3 separate regions of the Homo sapiens genome follow, and regions 1 and 3 are each reported to be linked to region 2. Evidence: microRNA targets listed by miRTarBase, many of them from high-throughput screens and not tested one by one. Region 2 holds a microRNA gene; each other region holds the end of a gene's coding sequence.

What was found. Region 2 holds the annotated microRNA hsa-miR-4432 (AAAGACUCUGCAAGAUGCCU, at 4,558-4,577, opposite strand). A microRNA usually pairs through its seed, bases 2 to 8, with sites in the 3' UTR of a target mRNA and lowers its output. Matches are read on the target gene's strand: a 7mer-m8 pairs with bases 2 to 8, a 7mer-A1 pairs with bases 2 to 7 and ends in A, and an 8mer does both.
Region 1: the mRNA of VAV3 is a reported target of hsa-miR-4432. Seed matches in the 3' UTR shown: 7mer-A1 at 570-576 and 7mer-A1 at 2,147-2,153.
Region 3: miRTarBase lists CUL4A as a target of hsa-miR-4432. Seed matches in the 3' UTR shown: 7mer-m8 at 3,933-3,939.

What each region holds. Positions count from the first base shown.
Region 1 is chr1:107,566,562-107,573,758 of GRCh38, reverse strand. VAV3 (vav guanine nucleotide exchange factor 3) reads left to right here. Exons shown (of 27, transcript NM_006113.5): 27 at 387-2,598. The coding sequence ends at 428. Among named protein-coding and RNA genes, the nearest start is that of MIR7852, 330 kb to the left of the region's middle.
Region 2 is chr2:60,382,805-60,390,004 of GRCh38, forward strand. MIR4432 (microRNA 4432) reads right to left here and starts at 4,641; the gene lies at 4,558-4,641. All of the region lies in intron 1 of MIR4432HG (MIR4432 host gene), which reads right to left. It also overlaps the pseudogene RNU1-32P.
Region 3 is chr13:113,262,151-113,269,350 of GRCh38, reverse strand. It overlaps CUL4A (cullin 4A), which reads right to left. Exons shown (of 20, transcript NM_001008895.4): 20 at 2,243-5,864. The coding sequence ends at 5,769. It overlaps MIR8075 (microRNA 8075), which reads right to left and starts at 6,431; the gene lies at 6,352-6,431.

The sequences.
Region 1 (7,197 bases), not on the chromosome of region 2:
ATAGAGCTAAACTTTATGTGTATTGCAAAATATCTATAAGAACTGCTGATGTAAATTGGAAAGAATGGGACATAGTACCTCTGTCTTTTCATCCTGTTCTACAGCAGAAATAGGAATCATTATGCAGCAGAGCCCCCCTGTATTATACTTAATTTACATATTTATTTGTGTGCTAGTGGATTAGAACACTGTTTATTTTATTCCTCCATTTCGATCATTTACTCTATTAGGCTTCTAAGAGCAGTTAAACCAATCTTCTCACCTACAATGGACATAAAACCCCAGTTTAATTGGGGTGTTATGAAAACAAAATACTCTGTTTGTAGAATCCTTTGAAGTGTCAGATACAAAGTCATGTTGCTGTGTTGGTTGCTTTTCTTTTTTAGGTGGGCTGGTTTCCATCCACATATGTGGAAGAGGATGAATAAATTCAAATCCCGTGTTGCACCCTGCACCAAAAATTTCAGAGAAGGGATAAATAGAAGCCTGCACAGCATCGTGAATTAACTGAAGTGTTTAAAAAGCTGCATTTCTGGCTGTTCAACATCCTCCCTCCTTAGCCCCTCCTAAGTCTTAATGCTGAGATTTCTAAAGATGCTGGTACTGACAGATTAATGGCTTGCCTAGAGCTGTGCAAGAAACAGCCTGCCAGTCTGTCATTGTCAGGGACCAGGGCAAAACCAAGAGCTGTTCTTCCCAGAAGAGCCCTGCAAACACATTGGTTCGTGCTTCCCTTTACTTCTTCTGGTCAGATACCATGAATGCCAGTCATCAGTAAATCTTAATACACTTTTGCTTTATTCTCACATGCCATTCACCAGATTATTTGATGGTACAAAGAAGCAGAAGTGTAATTTTCCTTTTCCCAGCATGACGAAAAATTGGAGTTCTGCCATTTGAGCAGCTTACTGGAAAGATCCAGCCTTACTTGTCTTAAATTGTCCAACAAGGTGACTCATTGCCCGGCAAACACTTTTACCCTCAGATGTTACTCATGATATTATAAAATATGAGGCCAGTGCTCAGGTTTGCATCATAAGTGAGCTATCCCTGAAGGGTTTTAATTACTTATTTGGTGTCCTGATTATATTTGCAAACTTCTTTATAAAAGGTGAAAAAAGCACACAAAAGAGAGGGTGTCTTCATATTAAACCTTCACAACCTTCATGATTTCATAGGATTATTTTGGAAATATAGCACTTGACTTTATGAAAGGATCTGGGCTAGGTATATTAAGGGTAGTTGCCAATAACCTGAAGAAGCTGGCATTGTTTACAGAAACAGATCAAGGGCTATAATTTATGTCATTTTATAGCAGCAGTATCTATTAATACATGCCTTTTCCTCCCATCCACCTCCCCCGCACACACACAAAGATGACCTGGGACATGATTTTTTTATTCCCACATTTTCTTGGAGCACAAACAACTTTGTTGAGGATTTTGGAAGGAAAGCACAACTGGGTCCTTTATTCATTTCTGGGACAGAAAGAGGGTCAGTGGACTTTTGTGGGCCTCCAGCTTCTCTCAGAGTCTCCCCCTCTGCAGCCCATCCTGGGAGTGTATTAACTGGAGGGAAGATGGGTCTTGCAGTACATTTGTTTTGCCCAGCCATCACTCTTTTTTGTGAGGAGCCTAAATACATTCTTCCTGGGGTCCAGAGTCCCCATTCAAGGCAGTCAAGTTAAGACACTAACTTGGCCCTTTCCTGATGGAAATATTTCCTCCATAGCAGAAGTTGTGTTCTGACAAGACTGAGAGAGTTACATGTTGGGAAAAAAAAGAAGCATTAACTTAGTAGAACTGAACCAGGAGCATTAAGTTCTGAAATTTTGAATCATCTCTGAAATGAAGCAGGTGTAGCCTGCCCTCTCATCAATCCGTCTGGGTGCCAGAACTCAAGGTTCAGTGGACACATCCCCCTGTTAGAGACCCTCATGGGCTAGGACTTTTCATCTAGGATAGATTCAAGACCTTTACCTCAGAATTATGTAAACTGTGATTGTGTTTTAGAAAAATTATTATTTGCTAAAACCATTTAAGTCTTTGTATATGTGTAAATGATCACAAAAATGTATTTTATAAAATGTTCTGTACAATAAAGTTACACCTCAAAGTGTACTCTTGGAATGGATTCTTTCCTGTAAAGTCTTATCTGCGACTCTGTCTCGGGAATGTTTTGTCTGTTGCCGTCAGCCGAACTTTGTTATGGAGGGAGCAGCCTCACACAAGCAGAAACACTCCTGTGGATGGTATTGTAGCATGTATTGTTTATTTTAGTCAATAGACCCTCTCCTTATAAATGGTGTTTAGTCTTCCTGTTGCATTTCATGGGCCTGGGGGTTTCCTAGCAGAGGATATTGGAGCCCCTTTTTGTGACATTACCAATTACATCTTTGTCCACGTTTAATACTTTGTTTTGGAAAATTTAAATGCTGCAGATTTGTGTAGAGTTCTAATACCAAAGACAGAAGTAAATGTTTTCCATATACTTTGTCTTGCCTGTATGCAGCCCTCGTGTAATACGGTGAATTAGAGTGGTATTTCACTTTGTATTATTTTGTAAATATGTCAATATAATAAATAGTGACTAAATTGATTTCTAAGAGTTGGAGTCTTTTTATTGAATGATCCCTGTATTAGTCAGGGTTCCCCTGAAAATGGATGGCACTGGATTGTTGGGCCTGTACCAGGCCATCGCCAGCAGTCCAGAGTGAACAGAAGCAGTGTATGTGTGGAGGTCACCACCCCCCCGCCCGCCAGCCCCGTGGACGCTATGCGTCTAGTAGGAGGGCCGCTGCGGTGAGTCTTGAAGCCCAGGGCTGGGCCCGGGCAGAGCCGCCGCAGGTGCAGATGTTGGTGGTAGTAGCACATATTCTAAAGAGAACTTCAAAGGCCGAAGTGGAGAAGGGTTCCATGTGAACAGCAGTTGGACATGGGTCATTCGGTCCTGAGAAATAGGTGAGCGCCATTCTGAATGGACAGGCGATGGCCTCTGTTGCCCTCAGCCAATCGAAAGGGAGTCCGGTTCAGATCCCGAATCCGGAGTGGCGGAGATGGACACTGCCAAGCGTCCAGCACAGTAATGCGAAGGATCCCAGAGAAGCCAATGGAAGCCCCGGGGAGAGTTCTTTTCTCCTTGTGAAGGGCAGGGCGCCCTGGAATTGGGTTCGCCTGGAGAGAGGGGTCCGCGCCTTGGAAAGCGTCGCGCTTCCAGCGGCATCTGGTGAGCTCTGGAGGGCCCTTGAAAGTGCGGGGGAGAGGGTGTAAATCTCGCGCCCGGCTGTACCCATATCCACAGCATTCCTCCCTCTGGAACTAAGACCTCTAGGCCAGCACAACAGAATGTCGCGGGAACAGGAAGCAAAAATTTTGCTAGTGGATCACTTAGGGTGATGGTGAGTGGTGCCACTTCCACTTCCACCCCCTGATTCCTGGACCCTTGAATCCTGGCCATGGGAGAAACAGTACCATACATTGGACACTGATTCAGAGCATACACGGCCTTCTAAAGAATTTTGTCCCATCCCTGCAAAGTATTGTCACCTAGTTGGCATTGTAATTGTGACTTCAAAAGGCCATTCCACCTTTCTATCAATTCAGCTGCTTCAGGATGATGGTGAATTCCATGAGCATGAGCCCACTGCTACACTTCTTTAGCCATAAAGTGAGTGCCTTGGACAGAGGCAATGCTGTGTGGAATAGCATGATTGTGGATAAGGCATTCTGTGAGTCCACGGATGGTAGTCTTGGCAGAAGCATTGCATACAAAATAGGCAAACCCATATCTGGAGTAATTGTCTATTCCAGTGAGGACAAACTTCTGCCTTTTCCATGATGGAAGAGGTCCAATATAATCAACCTGCCACCAGGTAGCTAGCTGCCTGATCACCCCAAGGAATGGTGCCATATCGAGGGCTCAGTGTTGGTCTCTGCTGCTGGCAAATTGGGCACTCAACACTGGCTGTAGCCAGGTCAGCCTTGGTGAGTGGAAGTCCATGTTGCTGAGCCCATGTGTAACCTCCAACCCTGCCACCATGGCCACTTTGTTGATGGGCCCATTGAGCGATGACAGGAGTGACTGGAGAAGGAGGCTGAGTGGTGTCCACAGAATGGGTCATACTAGCCAGTTGATTATTAAAATCCTCCTCTGCTGAGGTCACCCATTGGTGAGCACTCACATGGGATACAAATATCTTCACAGTTTTTGGCCACTCAGGCCCATCCACATACCTCTTCCCCAGATTTCTTTGTCACCAATTTTCCAATCATGCTTCTTCCAGGTCCCTGACCACCCAGCCAAACCATTGGCTACAGCCCACGTATCAGTATATAATCACACAACCAGGTGCACTGATTGAAGTTCTGCCCACTGGAAATATTTCCCTTCAGCACTGTCCTTCAGGGATGTCTTGGAAAGGGGCTGTAGTGCTGCAGCTGTCCACTTTGGGTGATGCCTGCATATCATGAAGAACCATCTGTGAACCAGGCCCTAGTCTTCTCTCCTCTGTCAATTCATCATAGAGAACTCCTTATGCGGCCATTGGTGCAGGCTAGGGAAGAGAAAGCAGGGTGGCAGGAGTAGAGACCATGGGCGTTTGAGCCACTTCCTCATGTAACTTACTTGGCCTTCAAGACCTGCTCGAGCCCGATCACGTATATACCACTTTCATTTGATGATGGAATGCTGCTGTGCATGACCCACTTTATGGCTAGATGGGTCAGAAAGCACCCAGTTCATGATAGGCAATTCAGGTGGCATGGTGACTTGATGACCCATAGTCAAATGTTCAGTTTCCACCAAAGCCCAGTAGCAATCCAAGAGCTGTCTCTCAAAAGGAGAGTAGTTATCTGCAGAAGATGGCAGGGTCTTGCTCCAAAATCCTGGAGGCCTCCACTGTGATTCACCTATGGGGGTCTGCCGAAGGCTCCAAACAGCATCCCTATCTGCCACTGACACCTCAAGCACGATTGGATCTGCTGGGTCATATGGCCCAAGTGGCAGAGCAGCTCGTACAGCAGCCTGGACCTGTTGCAGAGCCTTCTGTTCTGGACCCCACTCAAAACTGGCAGCCTTTCAGGTCACTTGATAATTGGGCAGGACTAATATACCCAAATGAGGAATGTGTTGCCTCCAAAAGCCAAATAGGCCCACTAGGCATTGTGCCTCTTTCTTGGTTGTAGGAGGGGCCAAATGCAGCAACTTACCCTTTACCTTAGAAGGACTATCTTGACAGGCCCCACAGTCCCATAACACACATACACCAGCCCCATAATTAACATGGGGATTAAGCCCTAATTTTGTTTAAGTTTAGCTCAGGATTGCTGCCTAAGTTATGAACAGTGAACTACAAGGTAAACTCAATAGTTGCCAATAACATGTATTGGCATGCTTACCATGTGCCATGCTCTGTTCTAAGTGCTTTATTTGCACCAACTTACAACAACCCCCAAAGGTAGAACCCCATAATATTTTCATTTGCACATGAGGAAACTGAGGTACATCAAGAGGTTGCAACTTTCCCAAAGTCACACAGCTGCTAAGTGTCAGAGCTGAATTCTGACTTGGGTGGTCTGGCTCCAGAGTCCGTATAACCACTACCCTATCCTGCCACACTTTGTAGGGCAAGAGAGAGATTTCGTACATTTTTAAACTTACATAACCGAGAAGAAACTATACGATACTAAACAGTGGTTTGAACAATGAAAGGTTAACACAGAATTCAGAAATATGCCACTATTCCTGCCACCTAAAAGAAAACCCAAAAAAGATATTGCCTAGAGAGATTAGTATCAGATTGAATTTTCGTTTCTACTTTGATTCACTCTTGCACTAGAAAATGGCTGCTAATCCAGAGAGGCTTGGAGTCAAGTTTCCCTTGGTGGAGCAGGCCAGCTGATAATCCACAGTGATGGAGTCTGTCTTAGGGAGAGGGTGGAATCACTTCATTCCTTCTAAGGACCAGGAAAGGCCATGGTGGTAGCTTCTGCTTGACTTCACCATCACAACCTTGCTACAAACACAAAATTCCTCTTATTTTCATTACGATACAGTGGGTTATACAGCCCTGAATCCATTATTTGAGGAGCCAACTCCGTTGGTATCTTTATCACTTCTCTTTGACATATTAACATTACGTGACTGTTAGACCTTGTATCAGTTCATCACCGTCCTCACCACTGCCAATTGTACTCACCGTTGCTCCCTTTATTTGCTAGTTAACATGGGAACACAGCTTTGTAACAAGTATTTTGTCTTCCACCAAATGAGTGAAGTAAAATATGCTGGTAGTTAGTTTTTCGTTGTTTGTTTGTTTTGAGACAGAGTTTTTCTCTTGTCGCCCAAGCTGGAGTGCAATGGTGCGATCTGTGCTCACTGCAGCCTCCACCTCCCAGGTCCAGGCAATTCTCCTGCCTCTGCCTCCTGAGTAGCTGGGATTACAGGCACCCACCGTCACGCCCAGCTAATTTTTGTATTTTTTTAGTAGAGACGGGGTTTCACCATGTTTGCCAGGCTGGTCTCGAACTCCTGACCTCAGGTGATCCACCCACCTCGGCCTCCCAAAGTGCTGGGATTACAGGCGTGAGCCGCCATGCCCAGCCACTGGTAGTTAGTTTTGAGGCATCTTGCTTTGTTCTACTTAATCTGACAGCTGTACAGAAGAGTGAAAAGGTATGGCCCTATAAGTCAGACTGACTGTCTCAGTTTATATCTCATCCCTACCATGCAGAACCTCCACCAATCAGTACCACAACACCTACTTCATAGAACGGTTGTGTGACACAACTGAGATCATCCACATAAAGTGGAACAGTGGCTGGCATATACAAAGCCATATTTGTCATTATCATCCTTGTTGTGATTGTCAGATGGGTTTGCTGACAAGTTTGGATAGTTGGCATCTTAATATTTGAAATTCTTTAGCATAAATTAGGCTCATTTATTGGATTGAGGAGAAAAACTCTGCAGATTCGAAATTAACCTTTCTAGGATGGGAATTAAACTATTTGTTCATAGGAAGAAGGAGGGTTTTAGCATCAGTCAGACCGGGGTTCAAACCCCAACCCTGCCACTAACTTTTAGGAGCATCCACTACCTCTTCTGTAATAAAGGGATCATTAAAAGTGCCTGAGAGAGCTGTTGTGAAGAATAAATGATAACATATGAAAAAGGTCCCTAGTACAGAGCCTCACACAT
Region 2 (7,200 bases):
GCACAGGGCATTACCAGGGTGCTTTCTGGAAATGCAGACTTTCCAGCCCCACCTCAAGACTACCACATTTAGATCTGCATTTTGACAAGAACTCCAAGTGATTCCTGTGAGCATGAAAGTTTAAGAGACACCAACTTACAGCATCATCTCTAGGTCCTTCCCAAGACCTACACGCTGTGATTCTTGAAAGGCTCAATTTCCAAACCTCTGGATTGAGACATCTCTTAGAACTGGGGGAAGCCAAGCTTCTAATCAGGAGTGGTCAGAACGTGGAGTCACAGAAGGCGTCTGTGAAACCCAAAGCCCTTGGACAGGCAACGCTGGGACCGGGAAGCGGGCGGAGGAGAGCGGTTCATTTTTTCCATAGGCATGCTGTGTGTGCCAGCTGAGGTCTTTAATGTAAACCCTCCTGTGCTCCGACCTAAACAATGAGCGTAATTATGGGCTGTCTTACCCCCTTCAGACACAGGGATTGGGGTCGGCCCTCCACAGGGTCCTGCAGGAGGTCTTGTTTCTGAGTCAGGGGGGCCTCTGTTTAACCAGAGCAGACCCAACTCTGCGGGGCAAAGTTGACATACCAGCATAATTACACGTAGGTTGACCATATTTACTGCAACTCTGTTGTTCTAGAATTTCAAACAAAGGCTGAACCCTAGGAAAACACACCACTAAGAAGAAGCAGATTGTCCTGAGTGATTTATTGAAGAACAAAAGTGAGGGAAAGAAAAAGAAGAGAATTATCAGAGACTCACACATACTTCCCTTTCCTCCTGTCTGGCCTAAGGAGAACAACCAGTGACCACCGTGTTCCCTCCCTCCCCAACGGAAAGGCCTCAAAACACTGACATTTTGCTTTTTCAGAGACACGTCTTTATGCAGCCACATCAGATCCCAAAAATCCATCTAGACTCACTGGAAGAAAGCAGGCGGCGGCAGGGTCAGGGGGAGAGAGCTCTCCTCTTCCCTTCTGACTCACTTCACTCACTCCCCACTGCCCCCTCCATGACATGCACCTACATTTCATACAGATATTTTCCAAATGAACAGAAACCTAACCAAGGCTGGAATTTGGCTTTAGAGAAGCCAGAAGAACAGGTCAGGTATGTTACTATTCTTTTACTTTGGGAGGTGACTGGTAGGAAGGCTCTGAGTAAGAGCCAGAACTCTTTGGCCTCAGGTTTTTCCCATGTAAATTCATCACTGTGATGGAAAGCAGTGGCATTTCCAATGCGCAGCTGAGAACTTGCATTGACCCAGCAATTACAGGAAAGGGGCAGTTAGAAATCAGCAGAGTTAGGAAACAGCCCCTCACCCAAGAATTAAAACTTGCATACATATGATTTAGGTATTCCCAATAGATCAGGGCTAGAGGGATCTCAGAGTATTTGCTTGTAGTTGCCAACCCTGTCCCCCCCCCAAAACACACACACACACACACACACACACACACACACACACACTCTTACAATTATAGCTCCCTAGCCAAGGAAGACTTATCAATGCCTACCATATGCCTAACAAAGAGAAATAGGAGATAGGCTTCCCGTCCTTAGAGAGTTTATGACATCTCCGAAGAGACAAGATCAAGTGCGAAAGACAGATTGGAACACTACAAGAAGGAACCTAGCAAAGCTCCGAATTGCTTCTTGGGCAGAACCGAGTACCTGATAGACCATTGGGTACTGGGGTCACCTGGTAGGAAGCAGAGAGAGAATCATTTACCATGGAGTTACATGGTAGTTACCAGAAATTTGTTTTGTTTTCTTTTTTAAGTTGTTGTTAAAAATATTTTTCTCAGATATACTTACTGGCAGGGGAGATACCATGACCGCAAAGGTGGTTTTCCGAGGATGAGGCTTATCCATTTCACACTGGATGTGCTGACCCCCTGCAATTTCCCCAAATGTGGGAAACCTGACTGCATAATTTGTGGTAGTGGGGAACTGCATTCATGCTTTAAAAATAATAATAATAAAAATTTGTTTTAGAAAGTGCCCAAACCTTCATCCTTTCCTATCAAGAAGGAGAGGACTTCCCTGCCAGAGTTCCAAGGCAGGGTCATGAGATTCCTAATTCAAAGTCTCGTCAGGGTGGTCATCTGCTCTGCTCGTTGCCTAGTACTCAGAGAGATACATACTCCAGGGCCAGGTGGTGCCACGCAGATGACAAAATAACAAGTGATTGGGCTAATTAGCCTATTTACAATCATAAAATTGTGAAAGAACCTTTCGCAAAACTACAGATGTTTTTAGTGTTCAGAAAGTCTGAAAAAGAACACAGAATTGGGATAGGATTTGGATCCTACCAGATGTTCACAGAGGGAAAGTCCTGCTAAATGGAAAATTCCAAATGTGGCCAGTTAGAAACTCTGTGGGCTGAAAGCCCCTCTACAATCCTGGATAGTTCCTAGTGACATCACTTGAGGTCTCCAAGCCTGAGCAAAGGACAGGATCTGAGCCTAGATGCCCTAAGATGGGATGGGGCACCCTGGAAAGAACAAGGAGTGGAACTGTTCAGCAGTTCACCAGAGACTTATGTCAGCACCTTGACTCAGGCCAGGTGTATGATATCCCAGACAAAGAAGGGAGGTATAGAAGAAAAGCAATAGAAAATGTCCTAGACATTTACCAAACTGTCTACAAGAAGAGCAGCCTCCTCTTTCGTGGGCATCTTGCCCCCTAACTCTGATTTTGCAGTTCTAGCACAAAAAAAATCATAGTTACCCATCCTTCTGCCAGAGAAAAGGGCTCATGAACTGAACTGGACAGTTTCCCCCTCCCTCTGATTGGCCCAAGGATTGGCATGAGACTGAACAGGGAAACTAGGATTTTCCCCAACAGGAAAAAAAAAAAAAAAAAAAAGCATTTTATGCTCTGATCACATGAACCAATAAACACCCAGCCCTCCTTTCTTCTTAAGCTGGTCCCAGTGATAATTCTACCACGTACAACCAGTGGATTTGTGACTAATAAAGGAAATACGTGGAATTCTCACCAGTTGTCTTCTGGTTTGTATCAGACTCCTACCCTGTGGCTAGGTCCTAGAGGACACCCTCTGGCTCATAGCTAGAGGACACCCTCATAGCTCAAGGGTGATGAAACAGGAAAGTTGCAGAGTGGAGGGGGCAGGTTCCTGCTAGTGGTGACAGTGACATTGTCTAAGGCGTCGTGGCATTAGGCACTGCGCTAATGTGCCACCCAGCAAAGCTGGTGTTCTGCTCAGGGGCACTCTGTGAACAGAGCTGATGAGAACAGACTCTCTCTATGAGCCCCTCCAACTAAAAGCTGCCCCTACCACTCCCAGCCACCTGCTTTCCAGCAGAGCTGGCAGGAGAAGCTACAACCCACCACCCTTACACACCTCCGGCAAGCAATGAAAAGGGAGTCCAAGGTATCTGTCCGTCGAGAACATGAGAAACCTGCATTTTAATCCCACTTTTTACCAAAGATGGGAACTTGGTTAAGTAACAAAATCATTTGGACCTCTCTTTACTCATCTTTACAATGGGGATAGTGAAAGAACCTGGCTCCTCAGACTGTTTTAAGAATTAAGTGTGATAATGTATCAAAAGCATTCAGCACCATACCAGGCACGGTTGGGATTGTCATCATTATTACTGTGGCCAGTAGTATTAGGAAGTGCTCTGAAAATTGTACTCTGTGAAATAAGTCAGGATCTGACATTGTAAAATCAAAAAGGGCATTCTCCCTGGGAAATAGCTAGCAGCTCCTAGTGGCAAATTCCAGACTTGGGTCTATTTTTTGCCTTTATATACTTTCTCATTTATGTTTTGATTTATGAAAACGCATCCATCATTTTCTAAGGAAAGCCTCCAGGCACATGAACAAAAATGATAAAAATGCACAACAGAAACAAATAAAACCATTCGGCATGGCTAACAAGTCAGGCATTTGGCCCCAGAGGGGTAGATAAATCTAGAGCTGGGCTCAGCACTGGGACCCAAAGGTCAACAGGCTGGGACTTTGCTGAAGAAATAAAAGAAAGGGGATTCTGGAGCTTCAGCTAACAGCCTACCTCAGATCTTCTGAGAGCCTAGGAGTGAATCTTCCAGAGGCAGCCCCCGAAAGGGTCTCCAAGAGGCCAGTCCAGAAACCTGTGCAGAGCTGCCCTCTCTGCTCCTTCACTAGTCAGTGGGAGAACCAGCAGACTTCTCCAGCCACGCCAGGCACCCCGTTTACCCCCGTGAGGGAGAGGCCATCTTGGGGAAAGACACTCAGTTAAGAGAACTGGGGCTCCCTAGGAAACCTGTCAGTCATCCTTCTGTCTTTATCCCCTTACTCCAGAGGCATTGCTATGAGGGGACCCCCTACCCAAAGAATTTGCTTCAAAACTCAGCATTTCTAGCTTCCAATACAGATACCTCATTTTTGCTCGAGGCTGGGAACATGTGAGAGGAAAAGTGAGCAGGAATCCCAGCAGAATCAGGGAGGGATCCATAGGGGGTGAGATGGGTTAGGGCCCTCACTAGCAGAGCACAGGTGTCTTTGTAGAACCATGCTAGCCCACAATGGTTAACAGGGTCCATGATGGTTAACAAGGCATCTTGCAGAGTCTTTCCAAGGTGACATTCTAGGGGATGACACTCTAGAGGTGTCGCATTGGAACGGCTCTGCAAGATGCCTTTCTGCCCAGAGTCTGAGGGGATTCTCAGTTATAGACTGTTCTGGCCATAATCCACCAAACAAGGGGGTAATTCATAGGCTGCAAACAGGCCAAAAAGGTGGCCCAGTGTGAACATTAGGGCCCCACATGCCCAGTAGGGCTGCCCAAAACTAGATAACACCTGGCAGAGCCAATCAGATCTTCTATTGGGACATCTGACTGAGACATGGGGAGCTGTCGTCAAAGAGTAATGGTACATGTGACAGAACAGAAAAGAGTAGCCAGCACTCCAACTCCCCAACACGAGAGTGGACAAAAATGGACTTACATTTGTGGGGCAAAGCCCCTGTTAATAACAAGTATTCATAATAACAGTGTCCATGGAGCCACAGTTGACAACAATACTCATTGAGCATAACTTTTTGCCTGGCACTGTTAGGTCCTTGTGCACAGGATCTCACCGAAACTTGACAAGGAACCCCACATGGTCAGTGCTATTATTGTCACCACTGTATAGATGGTAGGAAACTGAGGCTAGAGAGGTGACACAGTGGTAAAGGGCAGAGTTGCAATGTGAACCCAGCAGTTTGATTATGGAACATGGGGTTTTATTTACTAGATTACACAAACTCCTGTCAAATCCTATATGGCCATGGACGATACTCCAGTTCTCGGTGAAGCCCAGCTGTGACTGCTGAGAAGATTTACTGTTCTTCCCCACCTCCCAGGGTGTCCTTCCAATAATCCTCCATCACCTAAAGCAATGGGATTACGCCATAGTCCCCTTAAACTGCAAGCATCTAACTAATACAGGGACACAAGTGTTCCAGAGAAGTGGCTAGTAACAGCAAAGAATGACAGACCCTCCAAATGAGGTTTGGTGGCTCCCTTTTACCCTTCTGAATCTTAAAGGAAGAAACACAAGCTGAGACATTCTGGACAGGTGGCTGGTGCTGGTGAAGTTGACCTCTTCATTTCCATCTTCAGGTCATTACAAGGGCCTTCCCTGAAGCCAACTAAATCCTTGGACAGAGAGGACCTGAGGCTGGTATTGCCCTGTGCTGCACAGTAGACAGCTCTTCTCCTGAGGAAGGGCTGCTGGCAAGGAGGGGCCAGTGACCCAGACCCAGTTAGTCAGACCCTCCCTAGTACAGTCTGCTGATGTCATTGAAGAAGGCCATGTCCTCTCATCTCAGCTGCTGGCCTATGAGCCTGGGGCTGCCTGCCTCATGGAAAGTGATAGGGGAGAGGGAGATAGAACAATCTGGGCCAGGCGCGGTGACTCACGCCTGTAATCCCAGCACTTTGAGAAGCTGAGGCAGATGGATCACTTGAGGTCATGAGTTCGAGACCAGCCTGACCAACATGGTGAAACCCCGTCTCTACTACAAATACCAAAATTTGCCGGGCATGGTGGCGCATGCCTGTAATCCAGCTACTAGGGAGGCTGAGGCAGGAGAATCACTTGAACCTGGGAGTCAGAAGTTGCAATGAGCTGAGATCGTGCCACTACACTCCAGCCTGGGCCACAGAATGAGACTCCATCTCAAAAAGAAAAGAAAAGAAGAGGAAAGGAGAAGAGAGGAGAGGAGAGAAGAGAGAAGAGAGGAAAGGAAAGGAAAGGAAAGGAAAGGAAAGGAAAGGAAAGGAAAGGAAAGGAAAGGAAAGGAAAGGAAAGGAAAGGAAAGGAAAGGAAAGGAAAGGAAAGGAAAGGAAAGGAAAGGAAAGGAAAGGAAAGGAAAGGAAAGGAAAGGAAAGGAAAGGAAACGAAACGAAAGGAAAGGAAAGGGGAGAGCTGTGGTGGCCCTCGTGCAGGACAGGAGATGAGGCAGTTGTGTGGCCAACCTGTAAAAGGAAAACACTTCCCACCTACTGCAAGGTGACTCAAGGTGGAGGTGCCAAAATTAGGGGAAAAGGCTTCCAGCCAAGCACAGAGGAAGGGTATGAAAGAACTTTCTAATAGCCTCAAAGCAAGATCACATGAAGATTCTGCAAGACTGCACGACATTTTTCTTTTTTCTTTTTTCTTTTTTTTTTTTTTTTGGAGACAGGGCCTCACTCTGTCACACAGACTGGAGTACAGTGGCACAATCACAGCTCCCTACAGCCTCAACCTCCCAGCCTCAAGCAATCCTGCCAGCTCAGCCTCCCAAGCAGCTAGGACCACAATGTATGTGCCATTATGCCTAATTTTTCTATTTCTTTTAGAGTCAGAGTGTCCCCACATTGCCCAGGCCAGTCTGGAACTCCTAATCTCAAGTGATCCACCCACCTTGGCCTCCCAAAGTGCTGGGATTACAGGTGTGAGCCACATAGCCCAGCCACAACATTTTTCCAGAAGACAAATGGACTAACCTCATATTGATCCTGGGACTATGAAAATAGGGCAGCCGGCAAGACTTGAGCCAAATATATAGACTCTACTTCATAAATGAAAACCTCCAAAAAGTCCAAATTTAGTATTTTTCATGCTCATGCAAAGGACAAGCTTCCTCCTCCATTGAAAGGAAAGGAAGGGAGAAGATTTACTACAGGGTGGCCAGAGCTTTTCCCTGGAATGGCCCAAAGTTGCTTCTC
Region 3 (7,200 bases), not on the chromosome of region 2:
TCTTGATCTTCTGACCTCGTGATCCGCCGCCTCGGCCTCCCAAAGTGCTGGGATTACAGGTGTGAGCCACTGTGCCTGGCCTGCCAATACAGGAGGTTTTCATGAGAAACTGAGTATATTCATGGATCGAGAGAATAGGGTTTCAATATGTCCATTACAATTACAAAGGTAACCCATAAAATAACTGATGACAACAGTGGATTAGGTTGGGAGGAGAGCGGGCGGGGAAGTGCAATTACTTTGGGTTGGCTGATTCCTTGTGTTTTATGGTAAAGAAACAACACAGTGGGTGGGGCCATTTTGTTTTCTTAATAATTTGTCATTACTTTTAAACATTCTTTTGACACAAAATTAAAAAAATACAAAATGGTATATGCATAGAAAAGATTCTCGCATACCTGCTCGCAGCCTTCCAGAACTCCATTCTGGAGTTGAGCCGTCGTTATTCACACGTACACGGGCCGCACACACAGTGGTGGCAGGACGGCACTGCTCTCTTTTCTTACGTGGTATTTCTTGACACTCACTCCAAATGGACATCTAGATCTTGGTTCAAGCTGCATGGTCAGAATATCACACATGCATGGACTTAGCACATGGTCTGTTTCCTTATTGAAGGACATTTAAGGTATTTTCTGTGTGTGCGAGAACAGTACTAGAAATCATTCTACGTGAGTGAAAGGAACTTACTGGGTCAAAGGTGTGGGCATTTTCGAATTTAATATACCCTCACAAATTTACCTGAGAGACCATCATTTCACAATGTCTCAGATCCCTCGAGCTGACCTCCCTCACCAGAGCCCACCAGCCTGTCCCCCATCACTGCTGGGCCTCTCACTCTCACATGGCCCAACTGTCACCTCTGCCCCCTCCAGCCCTTTCTGAATTCAGTCTGTTGACAAAACCTCCATCTCCTAAACGTTCTTACTAGGCGGTCCTAACACCTGCACTCCTCTTCCCCTGAACTTCCCGGGCTGCTGCACAAGGCCTGGGCCTGGCCACTGCCTGGTTTCTCCTTCCAAACCCACCACAGGGTGCCCATGCCTCCGTGGAGGGGGCAGAGGCCCGCTGCTCACTTCGTGACCCTCCCCCTGGGGCTGCATCTGGGGCGAGGCCCTCCCTTCTGCCCATTGCTGCTTCCAGGCCATGCTCCTTCCATGCTGCTGGACACCCCGGCGGGGGTGCGCCCTTCTCACTGGCTGGCCCACCTCCAGGCCTCAGGGCTGTCCTGCACTCAGGGCCTCCATCACTGGCTCCTGTCACCGTCCCTGACTGCTGGACGACCATCAGGTCTTGTCTCCCATGCTCTGGCCCCAGTTCCCCGTCTGTCCTCACCCAGACCATCATTGCCAACAGCTGCGCCCTCCAAGCTTACCTCCTAAATCTTCATGTTACATGACCCCCCCACCCTCCAGCCTAGGGCCATGGTCACCGTCACAACCAATGTCTCCCCCGGCACCACACCTATGGCCAGCCCTCACCTGCCCCCACTCCCTGTGCCCTCGATCCTGCCCTCTCCTGGGATATTAGGGCCTTGCTGCAGGACAATGCCCAGTCACCTGCCACTGAAATGCAGCTCTGCTCCTGCGACCTCTTGGAGTCATTCTCAGCCGCTGTTCATCTGTTCTTGAAAGCAGGTCTGCCCTCACGGTACCCGTTTCCTCTGCTCCCACTCTCTTAAAGCTAATGAAGAACTCACTTATCCGAAGGCTTGTTGCTGGTCTTCTTGCTGACTTCTAGTTCTGTTAACATTAAACTCATCAGTACTTTGTCGTACATTTTATCCAAGATGGTTCCAGTTTTTTTTTTTTTTTGAGATGGAGTTTTGCTCTGTCATCCAGGCTGGAGAGCAGTGGCGTGATCTCAGCTCACTGTAAGCTCCGCCTCCCGGGTTCACGCCATTCTCCTGCCTCAGCCTCCCCAGCAACTGGGACTACAGACGCCTGCCGCCACGTTGGGCTTTTTTTTTTGTATTTTCAGTACAGACGGGGTTTCACTGTGTTAGCCAGGATGGTCTCGATCTCCTGACCTCGTGATCCGCCCGCCTCAGACTCCCAAAGTGCTGGGATTACAGGGATGAGCCATGGTGCCCGGCAAGGGTTCCAGTTTTTTTAACCTTGTTTTCCCCCATGTTGACTTTAAAAGATGTCATTTAATGTCAATCCTTTTTTAAAAAAATCGATGTGAATTCACTAGATCACTTAGTGGAAAAACACAAATAAAGGGGCAACGGGTCCAAAAATCTTAGAAAGGAGGACTATATTTTTCTTTTTCTGAGTTCTATTGTACAGCATGGTGAATACAGTCAAAAATTGAGTATTGTACATTTCAAAATTGCTAAGAGTAAATTTCAGATGTTCTCACTACAAAAATGTTAAGTATTTGAGGTGATGGATGTAACTAGCTTGACTAGTCCACAATGTATGCATAATTTATAAGATCACTTTATACTCTATAAATTTATACAATAATAGTCAATTTACAAAAAAAGTATCTTATGATTATGGTTTCATATATATGTATTTTTTTACACGTAAATACTTGACCACTTGGAACTTCCCTTAGTATAAAAAGGAGTCTAATCCAACTTTTCTCTTTTCAAGGTGGCCCAAACTTCTGAGCATGGGTAGTTGTTGCAAAGTTCCAGTTCCTGATCACACACGGCCCCTTTGTGCCACGCCGAGTTCCTGTGTATTTGGCTTATTTGTGGACTTTCTTGTTCCAGGAATCTTTTTAAAGGGCCAGCATCATGCTGTTTCAATTACAATGTTCTAAAAACAGCAGAATTTAAAACAATTTGACTAGTCTGGCATATTTGCTTTTCTGTTTTAACTTTAGAATCCGCTTGTGTTTTAAAGGAAGGTTTTACATCTTAAGATACTGTATAGCAAAATGTGAGAATCAACAGAACTTTCACTTATTCAGGGCCTGTGTTCCTTAGTAATGTTATAATACCTTTCACATAGGTGTTTCCCTATTTGTTACTAGGTATTTTATCTTTTTTGGGGGTTGCTATTGAAAAAATGACTTCTGGTCAGGTGCAGTGTCTCATGCCTGTAATCCCAGCATTTGGGGAGGCTGAGGTAGGAGGTTCGCTTGAGGCCAGGAGTACAAGAACAGCCTTGGCAACATAGCAAGACACTGCCTCTATAAAAAATACAATAAAAATTATCTGGGCGTGGTGATGTACACCTGTAGGCCCAGCTACTCAGGTGGCTGAGAAGAGAGGATCGCTTGAGCCCAGAAGGTAGAGGCTGCCGTGAAACATGATCATGCCACTGCACTCCAGTCCAGGTGACAGTTAAGACCCTGTCTCTAAATAAAAATAAAAAATGACCCTCCATTATAGCCTATATTTATAGGAAAGCTACTGATGTTTTTGTTAATTTTGTGTCTGGTTAACTTGGTGAATTCTTTCTTCAGTCACAGATTTTCATTTGCTCCTTAGATGACCTGGGTATGCAACCATCTAACCTGCAAGTAATTTCACCTTCTCCTTTCCACTTTTACAGCATTTCTGTCTAAGTGCTGTTTCTTTTTCAATGATTTCTTCTATACTATTTGTTTTACCACACTGACCTTTAACAATAAAACATTAAATATTGCTAAATAAGAGAATAGATATAAATAGATTTTCCTTTCTTTTATAAAACAGAAACAGGCAGGCCGGGCATGGTGGCTCACGCCTGTAATCCCAGCACTTTGGGAGGCCAAGGCGGGCAGATCACCTGAGGTTAGGAGTTCAAGACCAGTCTGGCCAACATAGTGAAACCCCGTCTCTACAAAAATACAAATATTAGCTGGGCATGATGGCGGGTGCCTGTAATCCCAGCTACTTGGGAGACTGAGGTGGGAGAACTGCTTGAACCCAGGAGGCGGAGGGTGCAGTGAGCTGAGATTGCACCACTGCACTCCAGCTTGGGCAACAGAGCAAGACTCCACCTCAATTAAAAATAAATAAACTAAAATGGAAACAGGATCTCCCTATGGTGCTCAGGATGGTCTGGAACTCAGGCTCAAACGATCCTCCCACCTTGCCCTCCCATAGCTGGGACTACAGGCGTGAGCCACTGTGCTCAAATGAAACAAAGGCACAGCACAACGAATCGTCCAAGTAAAAAAGACCCACTTGTCACTACCTGGCCCCACTGGTATTTTGTGGTAGAGGTGGCCAGGAAAGAATAATCACTTGAGAGGGGACAGGTGCTCCCTGCTCTGACTTCTGTCTAGTGCACTAGTAGTCAAAGCTGCTAAAGAGTTATGAAGAATGTGTCATTTGCATATCACAAAGTTTTATTAATGTAATTTTAAGGCCAATTAAACTAATTTTATTCAAAGTAAGTCTACATTAAATTACAATATTAACAATCTCTAGACACAACGAACTTATAAGAAAAAAAAAATAGAAATCTGTTTGGTCTTTCTTAGACCACATATCATGGAACTCATAAATGAAAATTTTCAAAGATAGAAATGACAATTAAAGAGTGAGGATTTTAATATGGAAACCCACAAGGTGTCATATTTCAAACCCGCATGTTTCAAAAAGAGACTCTTAATAATTTAGCACAAAATCAAATTATATAAACTTGGTATATTCCAGAAAATATTGCTTTAAACACTTATGCCATGATCAAAATTCCTTTGGTAGCTTTTAATCAAAATGAAACATGCTATTATGTAAAATATAAAGTACTTTTAAATGTTATCTCAAAAGTATCTTTGTCATAGTTACCCTTCTAACATCACTACTGAACTTTCCTTTCACTGTTCAACCTCATGTATATATACACAACACAAAACCAGGTACCAACAAAATCCTTTTAATCTTTCCACAAAATAACCTCTGCTTCACAACATCAAGACTTTAAGTCTCCATAAACTTTTTACAGTTTACAGCAGAGAACAAGGATCGTCCCTGCGCATGACTGTAAAAACCAAACCAAACTTTATTATTGCAATCACACAAATACTGCAATTAAAAAAAATCAAAGAGCAGTTACCCCAATGCAAAAAAACAGGGACTGCCAGACTCAATCTTAGAATGGAAACACAAACACACTAGCCCCAAACCCTAAAACAGAGATTCACAAGGAACTCAGCTGACGAACAGACGCAGCAGGGCGGACACCATGGCCTTGGCACCTCAGGGAGCTCACTTAGAAACCTGACTTACGAAAAATCAGCCATCAAAGTTTACAACTTTTGGAAATACATGAAACAGAGAGGGGCCAGTGGCTAGGGTGCGTCATCCATTCGCCAGCTTTGAACCCTGGCTCTTTCTAATGTTCACCCATGAAGGGCCCTTGTTTTCACTCTAAATGCTGATCATCTGAGCGAGCTGTCTTCAGGGATACCTAAGGAATCTTCAGAGCTAAAAAATGCAGCATCTAGGGTCTTCTTCATTGTGCACTCATGATCACACACGAGAACAAACCAAACTTGCAGCTTTTTGACACAAGAACAAGACCTTTTAAAGGAACTTCTCTTTAGTAACATCTTCTTGTCCAATCTCAAAGTTATTTTGCACAGAGTAACAGAAACAATTTAAATGCCTAAAAGAACTAGAGGAAAAACTGGAGGGAAAAAGATACATCTGCAGGTTGAAGTCTTGAGCCTTGTGAAAGATGACCCAGGAGCCACCTCCCTTCCTTCGCCTTCCAATGTCCACAGCTGGATCAATCAGAGTCCCAGAAATGGCACAGGTGTGCTTCCTGCTCTGAGGGTACATTCTAGTGTTTCATGAAGGGGAACCGTCTGCAGATGCGTCAGGCCACGTAGTGGTACTGATTCGGATTGTCTTTGTCTCTCTCCATATAGTCTCTGTCTATCAGAGATTCAATTCTCTTTTTCAAATCTCCAGGCTAAAAAAGAAGAATAAAACCCCCCTAATTACAATGGCATTAAATTTACAAACATTTACATACAAGGGGTATATGCATGAAGTATGTAACTATACTTATAGAAATATATATACAAATAGATATTTATATGAAAATCATTTATAATTATACACATATTTATGAAATGAACAAAACTTTCTATTTTAAAGACAAAGTTAACGTTATCTCTTGATAAAAAAAGCGTCCATGTGAGTTTATGGTCAGAGTGTGGTTTCCTGAGGGAAACGTGAAACTTGTGAAATGTACATACATCATCTGCCATCAGTAAGGGCACGTATAAGCGAGGCAGATCCGACATCTGCCATCAGCAAGGGCACGTATAAGTGAGGCAGACCCGACATCTGCCATCAGCAAGGGCACGTATAAGCGAGGCAGACCCGACATCTGCCATCAGCAAGGGCACGTATAAGCGAGGCAGACCCGACATCTGCCATCAGCAAGGGCACGTATAAGCGAGGCAGACCCGACATCTGCCATCAGCAAGGGCACGTATAAGCGAGGCAGATCCGACATCTGCCATCAGCAAGGGCACGTATAAGCGAGGCAGATCCGACATCTGCCATCAGCAAGGGCACGTATAAGCGAGGCAGATCCGACATCTGCCATCAGCAAGGGCACGTATAAGCGAGGCAGATCCGACATCTGCCATCAGCAAGGGCACGTATAAGTGAGGCAGACCCGATCACGTGACACATTTTTATTTGAAAGGAAAATCTCAACATGTCTTACTGGGGCAACTTTTATCCTTTGAAAGGATGCTTCTGCCTAAGTAGTGTATTTTATTTTGTTTATTTATTTTGAGATGGGGTCTCATTTTGTCGCCCAGGCTGGAGTGCAGTGGTGCGATCTCAGCTCACTGCAGCCTCCACCTCCTGGACTCAAGCAATCTTCGTGCTTCAGCCTCCCCAGTAGCTGGGATCACAGGCTGCACACCACCATGCCTGGCTAATTTTATTTTTTGTAGAGAAGGGGTCTCACTATGTTGCCCAGGCTGGTCTCAAATTCCTGGGCTCAATCAATCCGCCTGCCTCAGCTCCCAAAGTGCTGGGATCGCTGGCGTGAGGCAGTGCGCCTGGCCTGTAGTTTTATTCTCGTGTATTTACATAGTTATTGCATGCCATGTCCACGTAAGTGAAACTACAATCCCCAGTGTTCCTGCACTAAGAGTAGGTGACTGAGGAGACGAATCCACAGCCACAGCCTGTCTCTGCCCAGAGGGAACAGCCACTCCAGCTCTGCTGTATTAGGAAGAAAATCTGTGTGAGCACTTACGTGCAAGGCTCTCCCTATACAAGGG